Linked DNA regions of Homo sapiens: region 2 is linked to region 1. Evidence: fine-mapped expression QTL. Tissue or cell type: whole blood. Region 1 holds a variant in brackets; the other region holds the start of a gene. All regions are shown on one strand. Distances are from middle to middle.

Region 1 (8,104 bases):
CCCAGGCTGGTCTCAAACTCCTGGGCTCAGTCGATCTTCCCACCTCAGCCTTCCAAAGTGCTGGGATTACAGACATGAGGCTCCTGCTCAGTAAGACCCTCCCTTTAAAAAAATGCAGATACTGGCTGGGCATGGTGGCTCACGCCTGTAATCCCAGCACTTTGGGAGGCTGGGGTAGGAGGATCGATTGAGCCCAGGAGTTTGAGACCAGCCTGACCAACATGGTGAGACCCCATCTCTACTGAAAATACAAAAATTAGCGAGGTGTGGTGGCAGATGCCTGTAATCCCAGCTACTCAAGAGGCGCTGAGGCATGAGAATTGCTTGAACTGGGAGGTGGAGGTTGCAGTGAGCCGAGATTGTGTCACTGCACTCCAGCCTGGGTGATAGAGCGAGACTCCATCTCAAAAAACAAACACAAACAAACAAACCCAAAAAACACACAAACAAAAAAACCAAGCAGATAGCTGGTAGGAGGCGCTGAGGGTGGACTCCTCAGTTGCCTTAGCTGCATTGCAGGGATAAGTTCTTTGAGGAAGGGAGAGAGAATGGAATGGTCACTTTAGAGGGGACGATTGATAGGCAACAGGGCAGGCTACCATGGACAGTAAAGGCCACAGAGACCTGGCAAGGAGGGCTCCAGGAGGCACAGAAAGGGGTTGCCAACTATTACCTGCGCTCTAAGATTTTGCTAAAGACTGGCCTGGAGCCCAGGAAGAGAAGAAGTCACTTGTCTTTTCTCTCCACTACCCTCGTGTGCCCCTCTGCCCTTAGGATGCGGAATTTGGTCAGAGCCGTTCATGTCAGAGCTCAGCAGAATGGCAGCTGAACCCTGGGAGAGCACTGCCTGTTCTGAGAAAGGCCTGCAATTGTGTCTTCACGATGCTTTTCCAAGACAGCCAAGGCAGGTATAATTTTCCTCAGCAAGAAAGAGGAACCTCGGAGGTGTGCACCGCCTGGCTGGCCACCCAGGTATTGGCAAAAGTGACTGTTGGGCTGCTGGCCCGGCCCCCGCCCGCCGTCCCTGGAGCACTCACGATGCGGTCCGGCGGCGGCGTGCTCCGGATGAAGCACTTGATCTGGCCCTTCTCGCCGTGGAGGGCGTGCTGGGTCTGGGTGCTGGAGATGATGGGGGGTCCTGTTGAGAAACAGCGTCCCATTAGGCACCCGGGAAGGGCACGTCCCTGCTGGCGCCCTCTTGGGTGGGTTCAGAAGTGTATTCATTAATCCAAGCATTCAGCAAACATTTGCCGAAGGCCTGTATGTGCAAGGTAAAGTGCAAGGTAGAGGACTCAGAGATAAATTAGGCATTCAGTCATAAACCTCTCAAGGGATCATGAGCGAATGCTTCTAAGTCAGAACCCCCAGAAGATACAAATAACTGTAATAAAAGGTGGTGAGTGTTAGTACCACAGGAGCGGTGCAGATAAAGTGCTAACCGACTTCAGAGGAGAGAGAATAATTCTATCTGGCGGACGGGGAAAGCTTTAGGGAGGAGGTGGTAAGCCTGCAGAGGGGGTGGGGAGGTGTCTAGATGAAGGAAGACTCCCCCGCCTCAGCCAGCGGCACCCCTGCGAGCCATTCCTCAGATATCCAGTAGAGGGCGCCCTTGCCTAACAAATGGGAGCTGCTCGGCCAGACGGGCCAACGGGAAGAAATGGTTGCTGTCCCTCTCCTTAGGGCGGGAATCACCCCGGACAGGGGGAATGCATGCGCTGGCCGTGTTCACAGCCCTCCTCCCACCTGTGTCTCAGGAGGTCCTGCAGTTCATCATCTTGTCTGCCTCCACGTCCATACCCAGACTGCCCAAGTGAGGCCATGGCTCCCAAACTGACCCCAATATTATCATATCACAGAGTGTGGCACATGTTTATGGGTGTCAGGTTCTGAGAGCGCCTGTCTCATTCACCACATTGCACAGCCAAGAGAGTTCACCTGGTGGAGGGGAGCCTGTTCCCCAGCGCCTCCTGTCCAGTTCCGCCTGTTACCTAACCCAAGTCTTTCCCCTGTGACGCCTGCCTGGCCGTGAAAGACAAAAGAAGGAGCAGCTAGCTTAGCCTGGGCTCTGCTGGCTTCCTGGCTGGGCTGGGTGGTTGAAGGATGGGAGTAGGGACGGAAACTGTCATGCTCCCTTTCCAATCCCTGGGGTCACAGTTGGGACTTAGATGGCAGATACCAGAGGAAAGACAGCCGGGAGCAACGCATCTGGAGAACACACAGAATTATGCAGGAACAAAACAAAAATTGCTGCAAACATAATTGCTGTTTATTAGCCACCTTAATTAAAGCAGATTTGCATTTCTATGAGTAGCTCTCAGCCAAGGGAGAAAAGGTACTGTAGACACTCCAGTGACTTCTGTTGAGTTTGAGAAGGCAAAAGGGCTCGGGGCAGCGTGAGGTGGGCGTGGGGGACCCTCCATGGCTTTAAGAATGGGCTGAGCGCTGCCCTCCTTCCTAAAAATCCTTCAGCTCCAACAGGTCTAGGACCCAAAGAGATGAGGAGATTGATGTTTTAGGAACCGGATGGTGCTTTGTTTTATTGCTGGACTAAAACGTGATGATAATATAAAACCTTTTCTGGTCAGGTGCGGTGGCTCACACCTAGAAACCTAGCACTTTGGGAGGCTGAGGAGGGTGGATCACAAGGTCAGGAGTTCAAGACCAGCCTGGCCAATATGGTGAAACCCCGTCTGTACTAAAAATACAAAAATTTTTAGTATTTATTATTTAGCCTCCCTACTTGGGAGGCTGAGGCAGGAGAATTGCTTGAACCTGGGAGGTGGAGGTTGCAGTGAGCCGAGATTGCGCCACTGCACTCCAGCCTGGGCGACAGAGCGAGACTCCAGCTCAAAAAAAAAAAACAAAAAAAAAACAAAAAACCCAACATGCACAGACACACAAAACACACACACACACACACACACACACACACACACACACACAAAACCTTTTCCTTGTGCTTCCCAGGAGCTAGGAATTCCCTGAGGGGTTTTCATGATTCTAAAAGCCATCATCAAATGCATCTGCTTCTTAAAAGAAAATGAAAACCAGGATAAAGGGAAATGGGGTGAGGGTTAGTAAGATTTCTCTCCCCTTCCTGCAGATACCTGATTTGAGCCAAATCGGTTGAGGTGTGTGCCAATTTCTTTCCCAAAGGACTGCTGCGCTGGCCAGCAGTTGTCCAAGGCTGGGATTTGTCGCGATAAAAACCTGATCTCATTTGAATGCTTTCATATCACCAGCTCCCTCCAGCCCATGCCCAGGTCCCATCCACTGGGCGTCCCCCCTCCCTCTGCCTGCTCTGCAGAAGCAGGGGCAGACAGTTCGCCCCCTGGCAGGTCTGGTGCGCTCCCCTCCGGGGCCACTGAACTCATCCACCTGCCTCCAGGTGTGTGAGGCCACCCTAGTCAAGAAATAAACAAGCAGCTTCTTTGCTTCCCTCCAATCCCTCCAGCTTTTCTCTGCCTGGAAGCCTCGGGGAGCTTGTGCTGGCAGGGGTGGAGGCAGAGGAGGGGAGAGAAAGAGACCTGGAGAGTGCAGATTCAACCTTGGTCAGCGCCAGGGCCCGGGTTTCAGTGCCCTCCCCGTCCAAGAGAAATGTCCCTCCCGGCCTGTGTTCCCCAGGGGGCATTCTCTCCTCAAGAAATCTCTTTAAATCTCCCTTGGAAATGTCTGAACGTCTAAAGTGACAGCAGATGTCAGCTCCTCCTTTATCCACCTGCTTTTCCCCAGAAACGCCAATGCTCATTTGATGCTCCAGGCTTGGGGGCCCTGGAGTGCATGAGTGAGTGTGAGGGTCCCGGGCTGGCTGGTCATAGGGCCAGCAGAGCAGAGCCGGCTGCAGGCACAGACAGCCTGACTTCCGAGTGCCCTGGCTGGCGCGGGCTGTGTGGAGGGCCGCTGATTTCACTGGGGCCTGGAGCTCTGAGCCGAGTGTCAGACACCTGCGCTGAAAGGAAAAGGCTGCAGCCTGTGTTGCCATGGATATACGGAGGCGCGATCAGATGCTGTTATTTTTAGCCCTGCAGTGCCAATTTATTGGTGGCATCCTGGGGACACTCAGGAAAGGCAGGAGGGCTCCGACTCAGGGCTCTGCCAGGACAGGTGGCTGTGAACGTGCTGGGGTCTGGGTAGACTCAGCCTCCCTTGGGGGCTGCCACGACTCTGGGGTGGGGGGAGAGGAATGGAAATGCGGGGCAGTGTGGGGGGAGCTGGTGAATGGAGACAGTAGAGAGGTATGGCTGAGGAGACACCAAGCTGGTTTTGGTTTTCTAGCGAAGGGGAGAATAGATGAGGCCATCAGCAGGTGGCTTTCTGGGTAGAGAGGAAGCTGAAGCCCACGAGCTAATTTGGAGACCTCAGGAGGGCCCTGCTCTGGGGCCAGGACCCAGATGTCCTGCA[A/G]ATGTTGGTGGTTCAGTTCCTGCAGGGTCCCAGAGCTTTGGGGTTTTGATCTGAGTCAGGCTATGGTGGGAACAGGGGCCTCCCAAAGGGCAGTGGGCATGACAGAGGTGAGGGGGGAGCATTCGGAAACGGCAGAGGAATCGAACTGGCAGCTTTGCTTTTTGCCTGTGGCCAAAGCACCAGATAGGGCAGGGACGTCCGCATTTGCGTCCTGGTGCCACAACCTTCTTGGGTCTGGCCTGAGCCAGGTCTCAGCTTCTCCATGACTGTCTACACCCCATCATTCAGGCCTGGTGTGATGCCCTTGTCCCTACATATTTCATGTAACAGTCATTCATCTACTAACTCCCACCGTGAAAATACTCCCCTGCTGCAATTATTTTTATTATATATAATAAGACATGCCCCCTGCCCTCAAGGGGGCCCCTGAACACGTGGCCTCGTGGAGACGGTGACAGGGCTCCCTGGCTGGGTGACTCACACGCATTGGGAAGAGGCTGATCAGGAGCTGCAGAGATGCTCTCTTAAATTCTCATGGGGCCAGGAGAGGTGGCTCACGCCTATAATCCCAGCACTTTGGGAGGCCGAGGCAGGTGGCTCACTTGAGGTTAGGAGTTGGAGACCAACAATGGTGAAACCCTGTCTCTACTAAAAATACAAAAATTAGCTGGGCGTAGTGGCACGTGCCTGTAGTCCCAGCTACTCAGGAAGGTGAGGTTGCAGTGAGCTGAGATCGTGCCACTGCATTCCAGTCTGGACAACAGAGCGAGACTCCATCTCAAAAAGCAAAAAACCAACAAAAAATTCTCACGGGCCAAGGCCATGGTGAGTGGATGAAAGGGTGGACACGTTGGCCACCTAGTGACCTCTGATGCTTTTTTTCCTGGCCAGGATAAAATTCATCACCCACCACTCTCAGGGCTGAGACCCCTTCAAAGCTAACAAACAAAAAGAGAGGTGACTAGAAAACTACCCAGGCCCTTCCTCCCTCAGCCTGGGTCTGACGGGGAATCCAGGAGGTGGACCTAATTGTTGTCTACCCATAGTTGGAGGTGACAGCAAGGCCCAGAGCCAGCGACAGCTCCTTTGGGGCTATGCCTGGTGCCAAGATGCCTGAGGTCCTTCTTCCCTCCCTCAGGCCTGGCTCACCCCAGCGAGGGTCTTACCATTGACGGTCAGGGTCACCTCTCTCTCCCCGGCTCCCACACGGGGCACCACAGCCCGGCACACGTACTTGCCCGCGTCCTCCTGGCGCACGGATTTGAGGGTCAGGGTCTTCTCATTGCTCAGGACCTAGGAGAATTGGCAGGCTCAGATGCCAAGAGCAGGCGGAGGGGTGCACTCTTGTCTCTGGGAACAAGGCAGCTGAGAGGCTGGCCTGGGGTAACTGAGGCAGTCTCCGGCATCTCAGTAGGAAGCAAGGTGGGGAGGAAAGAGGCCAAAAGTTTCCTGGCCCAGACAATGCCTGTGGGCTGTACAGAGGAGACTGTACCAGCAGAGAGGCCACCCCGTGTGACTGAGGATGTTACATCCCAGGCGCAGCCCTGTGGGCTGGGGGCATGTGGGGGCACATGTGCCGGAGGAGGGGGATGCCTGCCTGGGGACTTCCAGGTTTCCTCCTACAGGAACCTCCCTGTACCTGCGGTGGCTTCTCCTCTCCCAGGCTAGCCATGGGTGACATGATCCTACAGCTGAACTTCTCTGGGGGCTCCTGGACCTGTTTTCAGAGTCATTTTCAGGATCCCTTTGGGATATAGCTTGGAGTGATGAAAACAGGCTCTGGCATGAGCTTGGTCTGCGTTCGAATCCCGGCTCCAGCAGTGAACACCTGTGTCTCTTTGGTCAGTTACTTATCTTCTCAGACGCTCCCTTTCTATGTATGGAGGCTGCTAGGATAATGCAGCGTCTGCTACATAACAGGCCACACAAAGGTCGGTTTCCTTCTGGTCCCCCTGCTTCCCTACCTGGAGCTCTCCCTGTTCCTTCCTATGTGAGGACATCTGACAATCTCTTATGCACTGAAGAATATATACGTCTTAAAAGAGGAACACAAGGGCTGGACACGGTGGCTCACGCCTGTAATCCCAGCACTTTGGGAGGCCGAGGTGGGCGGATCACCTGAGGTTGGGAGTTTGAGACTAGTGTGACCAACATGGAGAAACCCTGTCTCTACTAAAAATACAAAATTAGCTGGGCGTGGTGGCCCATACCCATAGTCCCAGCTACTCAGGAGGCTGAGGCAGGAGAATTACTTGAACCCGGGAGGCGGAGTTTGTGGTAAGCCAAGATCACGCCGCTGCACTCCAGCCTGGGCAACAAGCGCAAAACTCCATCTCAAAAAAAAAAAAAAAAAAAAAATGGAACACAGGAAAGTGAAGCCCAAGTCCAAGGCTAACGGTGGCTTTATTTGGGGGAAGTTTAAAAGGCTCTTTCTTTCTCTTTCTTTTCTTTCTCTCTCTTTCTTTTCTTTCTCCTTTCTTTCTTTCTTTCTCTCTCTCTCTTCCTTTCTTCCTTTCTTTCTTTCCTTTCTTCTTCTTTTTTTTCCCCAAGGTCTTGCTACGTTGCCCAGGCTGGACTTAAACTCTTGAGCTCATGTGATCCTTCCACCTCAGCCTCCTGAGTAGCTGGGACTACAGGTGTGTGCCACTGTGCCCACTTGAAAAGCCTTTCTAGTGCCTTCCCTCCCAGCACATTGGTGACCACCTACTTTTCTTGTAAGGTTTAGGACAGGGCAAGAGTGCAATGGCTGAATGTGCTCAGGGTGGGACAGGCACATGGGGGTGCCTGGGTTCCCCCTCCTCTTTCTGGGATCTTTCTCCCTGTGGCTTACACTGGAGGCTGACTCCCCCAGTCTAATAGTGAGAGGGGCCTGGGCAGCAGTTCCTTCTTGCTCCACTGTCCCCGCCCCCTGCCAGAGGTGCCCCGAGGTCTGAGCTGCAGCCTCACCACTCCGGAGCCCCGCTTCATCCAGACGATGGTCAGGGATGGGTTGCCGGTCCAGGCGCAGCTGAAGATGGCATCAGAGCCCAGATCCACGAGCAAGGATTGGGGTTCTGTGGTCATCCGGGGCCCAACTGCGATGTGAGGAAGAAGAAGACAGGTTCAGGTGGGTGGGGAGCTCTGGGATCCTCCTTGCTGCTGCCTCCTTTTCCCCCTAGACCTTGACTGGGGGGAGGCAGGCAGTGGGGTACTTGTGCCACCTCAGTCGCTTCCATTTTAAGTCTTATGTCCGGGCGGGGTCTGGGATCTGGGAGTGGGACTCAGGAAGCAAGGAGGAGACCACTCTCCCTGAGGCTTCGCCTCTCTTGGGCCCATGGAGGTGGTCGGCAGCGTGGGGCCTGGGAAGAAGGTGCTGGGGACCAGGTTCTGCCTGGATTTACCCCCACGGCTCTCATCCCCTTCCCTCTGTCTGGATCACGCCCGGTGCTAGAAAGCTGCGGAAGCCCCTCCATCCCAGTGGCGGGCAGGGGCCCTCCTCCTGCCCTGGAAATCTGGGCTCTTGGGATCTTCATGCCTCTGCCTTCAAGCTAGCTGCCATCTCCTCCAGCCTCAGCCTTCATGACCTGGAATCGAGTGACTGGTGCACCTCTGGGGTGGGATGGGGGCTCTGAGATGCAGGGTGATGGAGGCAGGGCTCTCGTGACCCACGCCTCCTCCCCCAGGGTTTCCCACCCGGTGCTCTCAGGCCACCCTCCTATTACAG
Region 2 (8,104 bases), 560 kb after region 1:
CATCTTCGGGCCTAATCTCCTGCTCCACCCCATCTCCTGCTGGCCCTGGCTTCCACCAACACAGGCACACACCAGGCAGGGCTGCTTCTTGGTACCATGCCTAGCTTGCCGCTGCCTGTTCCAAGCCAAATCCTCCTCTGTACACCCAAGAGGGGGACCCCATGGTATCCTCTTAGAGCAATGTGAAGGCCTTGACCCCACCCCACTCGTCCTCCCCCTAGGGACTTTCTTTTCCATCCTCAATAGGTCTGGCTGGCAACTGAGGACTCCCTACTGGGATACAGACATGCAACCACCCCCATTTCCAACAGACATGCCCCAGTTTCCCCACCCGAAGATTTGTTAAAGAAGTGGTCCCACACCCTTGGCAGCTGTGTATTGACCTTCTGGCACAAAAGAACTGATTCTTCTTCCTCTAGACAAGACGTCATCCCACATGGGGTTCTGGTAGGAGGGAGAAACACACATTACTTCCCTCATCTTTTGTTTTATGACATTTCTGAGTGAGTGTAAGTGTTTCCAAAGTTGCTGTTCACTCCCCACTTTGTTTGCTGATTCCTTCTCTGCCTGTACCCCCTATGATCCCTCCATTCTTTAGGCCACCTCTGATGTGTTCAGGCTCTCTTCCGATGCCTCCCCAACCCTGCCCCTCCCAAGGGAACTCCTTGCTAGTTCAAGCCTCTTGAAGTGGCTCCTCCTTTTCCATGCTTCTTGTCATCTCCATGGCTCCCTTCACCCTGGCTGGCTCCCTCTGTTCACTCTATTTTACCCTTCTGTCTACGAGATGCCTTTCTATTCCCTAGGAGATTCAGATCACCATGACCCTCTGCCCTCTGACAGCTGCTGACAGCCCCTTTTGGTGTTTCCAGCCAGGCAGGAGAGCAAGTGGGCTGCTTAGATTCTTCCCAGTAGGGAGATGGTACCTCAAATGCATCCTTAGCTCAGGGATGCCATTAACAGGTAAATGCAAGTTTTCACTTTTACCCCAATACAGTACAGTGTGCATGCAAAGCCAAAAGATCTGGGTTCAGCAGAATTAGAACCTTCACAACCACAGAATCACAAGGCAGGACAGGACGCTCTAGGAATGCCAGAGCAAAATGCCAGAGAGTAGGGAAGAGACCACCTTTCTTAAGAGCGAGTGTCTGGAGTAGAAGGCGCCAAGTTCTTGCCACTGTGGCTCCCCTGTCTATCTCCCCTGTCTCCGAGGTGGAGATCAGAGATCTCCCTGGAGGCAGGGAGTCATCAGTCCTCTAGGACCTTATTCCCTCCAAGCTACCTAAGCTGTGCATGTGCAGGCTGGATGGGATGGGGCTTGAAGCTTAAGGAGGGCACAGAAGGAAATAGTTGTGGGTGAACTGAAATGATAAAGAGGAAAAAATATAGCAAGTTCTAAGTTTATGGATGACAAAAGAATCGATTATTTTTTCACCCAGGGGCAGAACATGTCTATTCTCAGCAGGAGGCAAATTGTGCTGTGACATTATCCCTCTCTGAACAAAGCATGACCGTCCTGACAGCTGAGGGAAGAGGCATCCACGGCAAGGGAGAAGCCCACAAGCAGTACACACTGGCAGCTCTCCATTCCCTTGTTGGGAGCCAGGCCTGGGGACTCTGGCGGGGGTGGAATCGGGAGGAATGTTATTTAGCCTTACTACTGCCACCTTAAGAAAGATAAAGAAATACTTGATCTCAATCTACATGAAAAGCCCAAACTTTCAAAGAATAGGGACCCACCATATTACTGATATTAATTATACATTGATTTCTGTTCTCTGTCTCTCTAAAAGGTTATAAGAAAAAGTAAAGGTAAACAAACATTTGACAAATTAGGAAGAAAAGGATGGCTGGAACGGACTTTAAGAGTTTATTTGTATCTTGAGAGCACTGCTTGGAGCACTCTCTCTGCACGGGGACCAAGATACTGGGAGCATGGAGCTTGGGAATCTTGTTCCCAGAAACTCCTAAGTGCCATGCAGATTCCCACTGTGAGATGTGTTGGACAGCAGATGGCCATGTCATCGGAGTGCCAGATAAGGCACTAAAAACAACCCTGGACATTTGTTGTCTCTGAGGGAAAGGCCATCCCCTGGGTCTCTTCACATTTCCTGGGAGAGGCATCCCAGCATGCAGGAGGCAGGGGTCAAGCAGGTGGCTGTGTGAGGGTGCCGGGTGGGGGGGTGTAACCTCAGGCCTCATTCTGGGGGATCACAGTGGAGCCATTTAGAGCCATGTGGGCTAGACCTCCCAGGACCTGTTAGACATGGATGCGTTCTATCCAATAAGTTGATGAATGCATGACACTGGGTAGAGGTGGGGCACAGTACATGAGCTAAGCATATATGTGAGGATGGTCAAATAGAATCCTCTGGGGAATTCATAATGCTCAAAACAACATCCACATAAACAAATTTCCACAGATCAAGGCAAAAGATAACCATATCACATTGCAGTGAAGTCCATAAAACACCTTCCCACTTGATGGCTGGACCCCTTGATTCCCATAGTCGGACACTGTCTATTCAAGAAGCACACCATGTACAGGGATGCAGGGTATCTGACCAGCCATGTCCACTTGGGTCTCCTCATTTTTGTTTAGACCTGTTTTCCAGCCTCTGGACCAGGTATCTACCATTTGGTAGGGTGGACAGTGATGGCCAAGCTCAGAACACTCCAGGAGCACAAGGCATTAAGAACTGCATGATGTTATGGTTTCTTCCTAGCGCTCTCAGGACTCGGGGTAGATAAAACAGAGCATTTAACCTCCATAGGTAAATATTTAAAGATTCACATGAAGCAGTCAAGAAACAGCTCCAGACCAAGAAAGAAATAAGCACAACAGAAGATGTACACTGTAATGATTCAGACGGCCAGGGAGGTACTTAGACACCTATAGCCTTCTTATGCCAATCTACATAAGTATCACGGATCAAGCTTCTAACTACACAAAAGGCTGATTAAAGCATGCACTGGTCCCATGCAAATGTGAGTTTGTGTGTTTACGGGGGGTTGGTTGGAAGATTCCCTCCTTCTCAGGGGTTCTATATCAAAACTTCCTGAGTGAACTGGTAAGAAGCAAAGACGAATGGGAGTGTGTGTGTGTGTGTGTGTGTGTGTGTGTGTGTGTGTGTGCTCATAAGCAAGCACATACACATCCAAGAAAGAGGGTAATCTTACCAAATGGTAATATAACTGAACCTGTCTCTATACCAGTGTTCTGAGAGAGTTCTTATTCATTCAGCCTGAAACTCTGGGGAAGGCAATTTATCTTCCTGCTGCTGTAGGGAGCCTTGGTGAGAAGCACACAACCATATGAATACATGAGTGTGTGTGTGTGTGTGTGTGTACATACATTATCATTATACACAGGCATTAGTATGCACATACAAATATGAAGAAGGAGCCCCTTCGGTTTCATCAGGAGGACCAGAAGCAAAGTTTGAACTGCACAGATAAGGAGAAAGTCTGCAGTGACCACAAGCACGGGTGGAAGAGCAGAAGAAGGAAGCCAGGTTTTTGCTTATATTTGGCTTCTCCCCGACAGGGGAGAAACAGAAGACATGCTGTTTGCTTGCAAAGCCAGCCACCCATGGCAGTGCTTTGCTTTCTCGAAAACTTTTACCCTTCATTTAATCAACAGATGGACGTGCTCTGTTGTGGATTTTTTCTGAGTCTTGCACCTCTAAGAGCTGTGTTGGCTGGCACAAATGCAGCCTCAGATGGCAGAGGTGCATTGGCATTCCAAAAGAGCGGGAAGGAGCCCATGTACTTGCCCCTCCAAACTCAATTCCACAGGTGACTTTTGATGCCTTTGGCCAACTAGGCACTCACATTCCCTCTCCCGAATTTCCCTCTCCTTTCTGCACCACTACCAGCCCCAGGGCTCCCAGTGGCAAGGAGCCTAGAGGTGGCAAAGTTCTTTCCGGAGAGTCCACCTGCTTCTCTGCCCCTGCTAGGCTGCAGAAAGGAAACCATCAGCACCACGGGCGAAATTTCATTTTATACCCTGAATTCAGTGCTGTGTAGGATTCAGAATTCAACCTAATTTAGGGAACTCGATGACGTTCAATGAAACTCTTTACAAGCTTTTCCCAACCACTGCAAATTACCCCCCACAATACATTCTGTAATTGCAACCCCCTTTTCAACGGTGCAAACCACACACATTCGCTTTTGAATACACTTGTGCAAGTCAAACCCTATTCAAGCTGAAATATCCACCTAAACCAAGCTCTCCCTCCCTGCCGTCTCCTTCCCTGGCCTGGGTCTGAAGGAGAGGAGGTGCCCAGAAGTTCAGAGCGGCATAACCACAGAGATACTACCTAATTAACATACCAGAAGCATAAAGAACTCATTTGCATTGGAGAGTTTGAGCTGGATATTGACAAGTGAGAGGAGAAAGTCATTCCCCTCCCCTCCCATACCCCTTCTTTCCAAAGGAAAATAAACAGTACCATTTTGTTGCATTCGCAAAGGCGAAGAGGCAATGCCAGAGCATCTCAGCCCGGCACCGAGAGACGCATCCATCAGTCCGAGTTCCCGAAGCCTGCCCACGTTCCTGCCCACAGCCTCCCGCGCCCTGACAACCCAGCCGACTTTCTTCCAACTCCAGCAGCGCAGGGGTCCTACCTTGACTGAAGAGGAAGAAGCAGACGAAGAGCAGATCGAGCTGGAAGGGTTTCATTCCTTAGCGCAGCGAAGGAAAGCCGGCGGGGTAACTTGGCTGTGGTTAGTTTCTCTTCCTTGGCGGCTCTCGGTGCTCAGCCTCCGCCGGTCCTCTCGGGTTCGCGCCTACCATCTGTCCGTCCGTGGGTCCCTCCGGGTGGCTTCGGTCTCTTTGTGCCTCTGGGTATCTGCAGCCAGCCGACACAAACTGCCTGTTCTTAGCCGCCTCGGGAAGCCGGGATTGTCAGCAATGTCCCCACTCGGAGAAGATCCATTCTCTGGCTCTTGGCATCCCAGGCACACGGCTTCCTCAGGCGGGCTCCTCCCACAGTGAGCGAGCGAGCTAGTGACGAGTGACAGAAGGACTCCTTTCACTGAAGCTGAGGCGAGGGGAGAGGGAGGGGAGACAGGTCATAATTAAAGAGGAAACACTCGGAAAAAGGAGATCTATGCAAAACGGACAGTGGGGGAAAAGGCTGTGTTCTTTCTTTTCCCTAAATAGGGAAAAATTCAGCTTTTGTCACCATTATTGACCAAAAGGCATCTTGAGCTTGGAGTGGAGCTGTGACTTTTTGTCCACACGATGTCCTGTTTAACAGTGAAGTTAAGGATGACTATCCACATGCATGTGCACAAAAACATGCACGCCCTGCCTTTGCAAAGGAACTGGAAACTGGGCTGAAAGGGAACTAGGAAGGGGGGGTGCGCATCTTTCCCTCGGAAGGACTTGGCCAATGTGTGCAGCGGGAGGCTCGGAGTTGGAGAAGAGATAAGCATGCTTTGCATTTCTGAGAGTTTCCTGTGGGTGGGTGGGTGGTTGTGGTGGGGGGGGGGGGTAGGTAATAAAACCTGAACATTTGGATCTTAGTTTGCTTTGCACTGCTCCTGGAAGACAAAATGCAGGAACTAAAGGGAAGGCAAGTAGGCTTGTGACACACACCCATTTATTATCATTATCCTGGTTTGTGCATTTCCTAACGAGGACAGGGGAGCAGCCTGTCTTTGCATTCAGAGCCTCTCCTCTAATGAGCGCTCCATCACTCTGAGCCTGTCTTTTCTCCAAGAGGTGCTGTGAGTCCAATTGCAAAGGAGAGGCCAAGGTCATAGACAACTGCGTCCTAAGGATCTTCAAGCCTTTTACCTGTCATGAAATTCACACTCCACACTCAAATCAAACTCGGTTTCCTCCAGGATATCAACATGAATTTATCTGGGTCTATTTACTTAATAGACATTTAGGCATGCTTGGTATAAGCAGGCCATGGAGGGAAGCAAAATAATAGGCACAGACCATGCCTTCAGAAGCTCATAATCTAGTGTGCAAGCAGAGTACACACACAAGATGCAAACTCTAAGGACATAACAAAACAACACAGAAAAATATTCAACGTTATGCACTGTGAGAAGGAGAGGTAAAGAGAGAGGAGAGGAAAATGAAAGACGCTCCCCTGACATGTGCCATTTAGCATTCAATTCTAAAATCAGTCATTACTGTCTTCAGTCCCTGGACCTTGGGGAGGTCTTTTGGGAAACTCTTAGCCTTTCCTCTTTCAGTAGTAGCACATCTTTTGAGGACTCTGCTCACTACAAGGCACATTCCAACTCCAAGTTTCCATGCGGATGTTAACTTTAAAAAATTATCCCTTGGTATTTGTGAACAAGAAAGAAAGAAGCAGGGGCATATAGAAGTGTGCTAGTAGGAGCTGACATCTGGTAGTTGACACCAAAGATCTACAAATTAGTAGGTGTCTGCTTTGTTGACTTTTCTATTCTTAACTTAATAGTTTATTTAACTGCATCCCTTAGAGGCTGTTAAACACAGCAAAGGGAAATTTGTAAGCAAACTTTGGGAGGAGAAACAGAAATGTTGAGCAACAGAAACTAAAAGGACACAAAAGAGGCAGCCCATTAGCTAAATTAACAAACAAGTTACTGAAGCAGTGTCAGCTGAGCCTGAGTCCATTAGCCTGGTGTAACAGATCATGCAATAAATGGAAGAGGCAAATCAAAAACACACAGAGGAGATGAAAAATAATTTTAAATAACATATGCCAAATAACACAGTAAGACTGAAAATAACTCTATGTATAGCGCCGTCACCTTAGTAGTAGCTTTGCATTAAGCCTATGGGGTTGTTGGGGAGAAATTTCAGGTGTCTGCGTGCCATTCTTGCAGGGAATAGGACAAATACTAGAATGCAGATTCTCTATCAAAGGTAGCAACATTTGACGTTTTAACTAAAGATTTATCCTTTAAGCTGTTGTTTAATTTTGAGTGCTAATTCCTCAATGGCCCAGGGCCCAGATTTGCTTAATTCAGCCCCCGAGGGAACTATTACAAAACCAGGGTCACAAGGCTAGTGAAGTGTGCAATACGCAATAATCAGGCACACGTACAGGTGTCTGCACTCCACACTCGCACTGACTCTTGGAAAGAAGAGGGGGGCCTGGGAGATCCAGGTTGGAAGGATCTTGTTTCGCTCTCCCATTGGCCCCCAACACTGGCCTCATGGCCCCCTTACTGGCTCCAGGCATCCCCCTCACCCCCACCAACGAGCCAGCTGGGCCTGTTCCCCTCTCCACTCCCCTCTACTCCCTCCCTGTAACCTCCGGTCTCCCGCAGAAAGAAAGAAAAAAAAAAAAGCTTGGATTAAGTGATGAGCTGCCCGCCTCTAAAAGGACCAGGAGGCGTATCAAGCCTGAGTGCCGGAAAACCCACGGCAATCTTCAGCAGCCACCACGTGGGGCAGAGAACGCGAGCAGTACCTGCAGGACCCACAGCCGGTCGGGCTCTGGCGCCAGCCTCGACGGCGGCCCCGCCATCTCCGCCCGGCTGCCCGCGGCCTCACCTCCTCCGGGGGCTCGGTTAGCCTCCTGGCGCTGCAAGGCTGCCTGCGCGCGGTTCGCTCCGGGGGAGGGAGGAGGAGGGAGGCGGCGAGGAGCCGACGGCTCCACCTGATGGAGAAGCGCGGAGAGTCCCTAGACCTCGGAGTGCGCTGCAAGAGGGGAGAGGAGAGAGACCGCCGCCCCTGCTGGAAGCCTTCGCGTCCGGGGGCGGCGCGCGGGGGAAGGGGTCTCTGGACAGTCGGTGGAGGCGGCAGCCCTACAGAGACAGCCGAAAGCCAGCAACTTGGAAAACCGCCCGAATTCTGGGTTTCTGCACATCCAGGCTGGCTCCAGGTCTCTTGTGCCCACCGTGCAAGCCGGCGGGATGCCAGCAGGTGGCATCCTCTCCAGCGTTTCTTCGCCAGGCGTGGAGTCCGGAGGCCGAATCCATCAGTCCCCAGCCCCCTCCCCAAGCCTCCGGTGCCAAGTGCTGGGTCCTGTGAGCCCCTGGCCCGCCCCCCACCTCCGCCAGCGGGGCGAGCCGGAGCTGGGTGACCCAGACCCTCGCGGAGGCGGGAGCCTACAGAGGATGCCGGCCGGCCCCAGGTTCTGCT

Evidence for each region. PIP is the estimated chance that this variant, and not a neighbour inherited with it, causes the effect.
Region 2: it holds the start of KIRREL3, and the variant in region 1 is fine-mapped to the expression of KIRREL3 in whole blood (TOPMed, PIP above 0.99). The same link has a PIP of 0.9 or more in blood mononuclear cells.

The regions. Positions count from the first base shown.
Region 1 is chr11:126,439,412-126,447,515 of GRCh38, forward strand. It overlaps KIRREL3 (kirre like nephrin family adhesion molecule 3), which reads right to left. Exons shown (of 17, transcript NM_032531.4): 9 at 7,348-7,475; 10 at 5,568-5,694; 11 at 1,038-1,138. Among named protein-coding and RNA genes, the nearest start is that of ST3GAL4, 88 kb to the left of the region's middle. RefSeq lists enhancers at 3,138-3,820, 5,243-5,796, 5,797-6,350, 7,464-8,032. The variant A/G (reference allele first, on the strand shown) is at 4,402.
Region 2 is chr11:126,995,826-127,003,929 of GRCh38, forward strand. It overlaps KIRREL3 (kirre like nephrin family adhesion molecule 3), which reads right to left and starts at 4,945. Exons shown (of 17, transcript NM_032531.4): 1 at 4,630-4,945. The coding sequence starts at 4,684. KIRREL3-AS3 (KIRREL3 antisense RNA 3) reads left to right here and starts at 7,085. Exons shown (of 3, transcript NR_040078.1): 1 at 7,085-8,104.